Linked DNA regions of Homo sapiens: region 1 is linked to region 2. The links come from fine-mapping of genetic effects on gene expression. A gene starts in region 2. The other region holds a variant in brackets. All regions are shown on one strand. Distances are from middle to middle.

Evidence for each region. PIP is the estimated chance that this variant, and not a neighbour inherited with it, causes the effect.
Region 1: its variant is fine-mapped to the expression of QTRT2 in whole blood (TOPMed, PIP 0.96).

Annotation. Positions count from the first base shown.
Region 1 is chr3:114,110,241-114,113,156 of GRCh38, forward strand. No RefSeq gene overlaps it. Among named protein-coding and RNA genes, the nearest start is that of QTRT2, 55 kb to the left of the region's middle. RefSeq lists an enhancer at 679-1,180. The variant C/T (reference allele first, on the strand shown) is at 1,432.
Region 2 is chr3:114,055,542-114,058,457 of GRCh38, forward strand. It overlaps QTRT2 (queuine tRNA-ribosyltransferase accessory subunit 2), which reads left to right and starts at 1,196. Exons shown (of 10, transcript NM_024638.4): 1 at 1,196-1,323; 2 at 1,458-1,565. It overlaps CCDC191 (coiled-coil domain containing 191), which reads right to left and starts at 985. Exons shown (of 17, transcript NM_020817.2): 1 at 836-985. The coding sequence starts at 925. RefSeq lists an enhancer at 727-1,136.

The sequences.
Region 1 (2,916 bases), 55 kb after region 2:
CCAGTTTTATGTTCAAAAATCCTGTCCTTGATTTTTTAGGCAGCATACCTATGATTAAGCATACACAGTGAATATCCTTTTACATATGAATCATGCTTTCCAATGTATATTTCTTTGCACATTAATTTTTTCCCCAATAGTTCTGTGAAGTAGACAGGACAGAGAGAATTGCCCTCATTTTACTCCTGAGGAAGCAGAGGCATAGAGACATTTACTCCTTAGAGTTTGTCAGCTGAAAAAGGTAGACTTTAATTGAAGGCGATAGAAGCAGGACAGTTAGGAAACGGAAAAGCCCGGCTGCCAGGGGTTACGGACACAGGCAATTCCCTATGAAAGTGCTTTCTTCACTTGCCTTCACTCACCAGATTTCCTTGAGGCAGCGGGTGGGTGAGTATGCCTGGTATGATAAAGGTTCACTCCAATACATGAACAGAAAGTATTTCAGTTCAACAAAAGCAGAGCCTGGGAGAGAAACCCAGGGGGTTTACACCAATTCTGGAAGGAGGCAGGAAACAAGCAGAGGGGAAAAGGACAGAAGGAAAGTGAAGGGGGAAGGAGAGTAAGTGACAAAGGAGGAAAAGGTGTGAAACAATTTGCTCCTAGTTTATGAAAATTCCTCTTTGAAAATGAGATAAAGAAGTAATTATTTGCATCACAAATTAACTCTTCACTTCAAAAGAGTAGTTACCACAGGTGTGATTCTGCAATGTGAGACTTTAAAAGAACATGACTTGGGAGAGGTGGGAGATTTAAACAATAAAATCCTGATTATAATATAATAGGAAATAATTCCAGTGATAAAGGGGGAGACAGCTAAAGAAGGAGGTGGTTATACAGGGAGCTCTCTGCAGAGCTCAGGCTTTGAAAAGGACATGAACAGAAAGCAAAGGGAGGGGATTATAGATAAGCTTGAACACAAAAGACTATCATGAACCTTCAAGAACAGAATAAAGGAGGCTAAAGCTGAGCTTTACAAAAAAGCGCTAAAGGCTGCATTACTTAGAGTAAAGAGAAGCACAAACATGGAGCAACCTGCTCTTTGAGGAAGTAAGGTTGTGTAATGTCAACAGAAGTTCAGCAGTGCTTACTTTTTTTTAGTGTTCATTTTGCTTCTGTCTTCTCCTAGGTGCAAAAAGTAGTTGTAACTGACATTTCTCTTAGAGAGAGACTGTATTTGCGCAGAAGGAGCACACTGATATTATCCCACTAGGGAAAGGGACAGAGATCCCCAGAGTCTCAGCCTCAAAGATAGGAGAAGACTTAGGAGCTCCCTGGCCACATTTGAGAGAAAGATGGTGAAAAGCAAGTATAGGAGCAACAAAACCAGGAAGACAGTGATCTACCACACCCCCCTTCCCTGCTCTGCTCAAATCTTGTGTAATTCTTCTAAAACTTGTTAATTGCTTTGTGTGAGTGAATTTCCCATGGAAA[C/T]AGAAGATGAAACTCAGCTTGGCTCCCTAGGGCACATGGTGAAAATGACAGCCAACTTTCAGATTAAGGAGCCAAAGGAAAGAGACGTAAGGATATACAACCTTCAATTTTTTCTTTGTTTGTTTGTTTTGAGACAGTCTTGCTCTGTCACCCAGACTGGAGTGCAGGGTGCAATCTTGGCTTACTGCAACCTCTGCCTCTCGGGTTCAAGTGATTCTCCTGCCTCAGCCTCCTGAGTAGCTGGGACTATACACACATACCACTGCGCCTGGCTAATTTTTGTATTTTTAGTAAAGATGGGGTTTCACCATGTTGGCCAGGCTGGTCTCGAACTCCTGACCTCAAGCAATCCACCCGTCTCAGCCTCCCAAAGTGTTGGGATTACAGGTGTGAGCCACCGCACCTGGCCTGGGGTCTGGTATTTTAGGACAAACGAATAACATGGCTACATCCAAAGAAAAGCGATAATCTGTTGGGAATTACAGCAAATGGGAGAGGTGCCTGAAGGCTGAAAACTTTTCACAAAGGGGAACAGAATAGATTCTATCAACTAGAGAGCAATAAACAAGCATTGACATCTATTCCACTGCAAATGATTAATTCAAGACTAAGCCAATCATGGTATTCCATTCACCTTGCTAGGATGGATTGCTGCTGTGATTTAAACCTGGTTAATAAGATAAAAGGGGGAGTTTTGGGAGTATTGGGCAAAGAAATTACATGAGGAGAAGAGTGGTTCTGCAGTTACTGAGCATTGTTGTGACAGATATGACTCCTAGAATGGCTCCATCATTACTTATGGAGGTGAAGGGTGGGGAGCCAGCTCGAGAGCAAAGCAAACCTCTGGAGTTAGCAGACGGGAGATGGAAAGAGCTTGAATCCATGATGACTCTGCTAAGCCACTGAATCTGCCAGTCTGAAGCTCATACTTCATATAGACTTCTTCATGAGTGAGTAAAATAAACCTCATTGTTGAAGAAAATCTGAGTCAGGGTTTTCTGATATTTGGGGCAAAGACATATTCTAACTGATACAACGATATATTTAGCTGAAAGAGTATGTGATATTCTGTGCAAGTCCTACAAATAGCGTATGACACTGACTCTGACCCTTAGGATTTAGGCCTCAGTGTTTTTTCAATAACATGACAACATTCCCTTTAATATATTCTTCCATTTGGAGATAATTCAAATCTCAAGGGAAGTCTAAGACAGTAGCTATTGTAATTAAAATTCAGTGACTAAGCAGGCTGGAATGCTAGGATAAAACCAACAAGTCGAATAGATGATGAATACAAGATCCAGCATTGGTTCCAAAAATCTACATCCAAAGTTCAAGACCAGGCACGGTGGCTCATGCCTGTAATCTCAGCACTTTAGGAGGCTGAGGCCGGGGGGATCATCTTGAGGCCAGGAGTTCGAGACCAGCCTGGCTAACATAGTGAAACCCTGTCTCTACTAAAGAATACAAAAATTAGCCAGGCGT
Region 2 (2,916 bases):
GCCACATACATCTACAGAATATTATTTAGGAAAGTATAACTTAAGGGTGAAAACAGCTGGTGAAACTGCTCTGTAGCTGAAAGCTGAGAAGCTTCTCCATTTTAGTACTCTCATTTAGATTTTAAGCATCTTTTTGGGGACTGTTAAAAAGGTAGTCTGTGGAAAGCACACGGTGCAACTGTGACTTTGCACATGTCACATATGTTTCAAGTTTAAAATGGGGTTATTATTTTTTTCTTATCTTCAGGTGCTAATGCATCCAAATGGGTGATAGATACGGAGAGAATCTATTTTTTGAAAGTTGGTTGAATTTAGAAATTACTATGTGAATCAAGTATTAATGTATTCAATATCCATTTGCACTCCTGAGTTTATTTAGATACTTTACGTAAAAGTGAAGGGGCAGGAATATAGGCAGGGTATTTAATGTGAAGCTCTCTCCCGTTAATAAAGATCAATTACCCCAAGATTTGCAAAAAAAAAAAAAGAGAGAGAAAAAGAAAGAAATGTGCGAGAAGTTTCCTAAAATTTAAGGTAGGGGGAACGGAGTTTGCAAACTCCTTTCACCCCGATGGGCATTAGCAGACACCTCCGGTTTTAGAAAAGCGTTACAAACAGTTCTTCCACGATGCTGCCCACCAAAGCCGTAATGTGCCCAGACCCCAGAGCTCCTAGAGCATTTCACTCAGGGTAATGCTGGCTTTGGGGCGGTCAAGGCAGGGGCGTGTCAGCTCAGGATGAAGAGGCAGGAAGCACAGACGGGCCGCGACTGGCTTCCTGACTGCGCCGCGCCTTGGGAAAGTCCCCGCCCTCCAAAGCTCTCGATTGGGATCACCTTGGGACTCGGCTTCCTTGTGAACCGTTTCCAGCGATTCAGCCCCATCCTTTTCTTTGAGAAGGACCTTCCCTGAGGCGCCAGGAGCATTTTCCAAGTTCGAGCCCGAACCTCGGCCAAAGCTGCAGCAACCGCCCTTCTGCCCGGGCTGCCTCCGGGTCACGCTGGGAATTGTAGTTCCTCCGCCCGCAAGGAAAGCAGGCATAGGACACCGTCGAACCACCACTCCCACGAGGCTCTGCGCAGGCCGCTCGCGTTGGCTCAGTTACCATAGCAACGGCAGAGGTCCCTCGCTCTTGCCGTCATCAAGGCTCGCTTGAATGTCGGCTTTGCTTTTTTTCTGGCGCCCAGTGATGACGCAGTACTCCCTGATTGGCTCTGCACTGGAGGCAGTGATTTTGGGGCAGAGAATTTTGCAACACGTGGTAGTGAACTGTGAGGAGTTTGAGGGGTCTGAAGACTGAAAGAGTCGAATGGTTTGTTGGCAGGTAAGTGCCCCTTTGCCCTGCTGGTGTGGGAGCTGCTAGAGATGGATGAGTCACGTCGCGTCCAGACGCTTCCTGGTTGTGTTGCAGTAACGGTGATTGTACTCCCGCCATGTCTCCTCTGCTTCCCTTTTCAGGGTGTCCTGGTGGATTGGTTTCTGTAAGTTCAGATTCTCATAAATCGTGTGAGCGTCGCCGACACCTCTGAGATAAAAGGGCCCCTTTCGACTAGCCTCTGCTGAAAGGTAGAGTTTTCAGGAAGTTTTTATTCCGAACTGCCCATGGGAGGGTGGGACCGTCTTCAATCTCTGAGCCAGGTGCCTAGGGAGGTCTGGGGCCATGGAGATGGCCCATGGAGCAAAGATAAATCCAGGCTTATTGGCTTAGCCGAGGTGTTTCCAGAGACAGCCCATTTAGGGGTGATAAATGGGCTTATAAAGCAGAGTAAAGATTTAGAACAGGAGTTTTGAATTCAACTACTTTGTGGCTATATGACCCTAGGCAACTTGTTTAATAACTCAGAGACCCTGTTTTCTCATGCAAAATGGGGACGATAATACCTGAATCACTGGAGTGTTGTAATGATTAAAAATAAATGTATGTGAAGCATTCTGCCAGGAAATGTAAACTAAAGTTGATTTGAAATTGGTGAAAATGAAGTTAGGGAAGCTATGCCCTCGGACTGTTGCAGCGATCCTAGGACCAGCTCTGTAACTGGTCTGTCTGAAAGGCGGTTGAATAAATTGTGCTCATACAAACTATGCAGTACCACGAAGTAGTTTTTTTCAAAAGGGTAAGTTAGCTTTATGTCTCTTCTTCAGGAAAGACGTCTAATGTTTATTCTTGAGAGAAAAGCAAATTGCAGAGAAGTGCATATATTATAGTATAATATGTTTCCATTTTTGTAAAAGCAAACCCTGACCAAAACACTCCCTCCCATATGCAAGTATGTTTAAATATTTGTATGAGAATGGAGAAAGATTGCAGAGACTGGGAGGATGGATTAGAGGCGGGAGGGAGAAAGGGAAAAGAAGAAGAACACTATAGCAAAATGGAAACTAAGATTATAATGTGCTTGTGTACCAGATGGAACTTCTAATAAGCTCCCAGCCTATTAGAGTACAGCGCTGAAAACTAGACTTCAATAATTAAAGTCCTTGCTCTGCCACTTACCAGCTGGGGATTTTATCAGCCTCAGTTTATCATACATAAAATGCAGATAATAATGGTATCTATATTATGCATTTGATCTGAGGATTAATGGAGTGAATATATAAAGAACAGTGCTTAATACATAGTAAATACCCGATAAATGTTAGTTGCTATTATTGTCTTTCTATATGTGAAATTAATTTAACTTTTATTGTGATTACTGACATTTGGAATTCTACCATCTTATTTTGTGTTTTCTATTTCTTTTTTTTGGTCTCTTTTCCTTTCTTGCCTTTTATTAGGTTAATTCATTTTTCTTTATCTTCCCACTTCCCTCTCCAGTGAGTTTGGAAATTATGCATTCTGTCATTAATCGTTTAACAGTTACTTCTGAATTTTTAACACACATACTCAACAAAGTTTAACGTCGTCGTTATCTCTTTC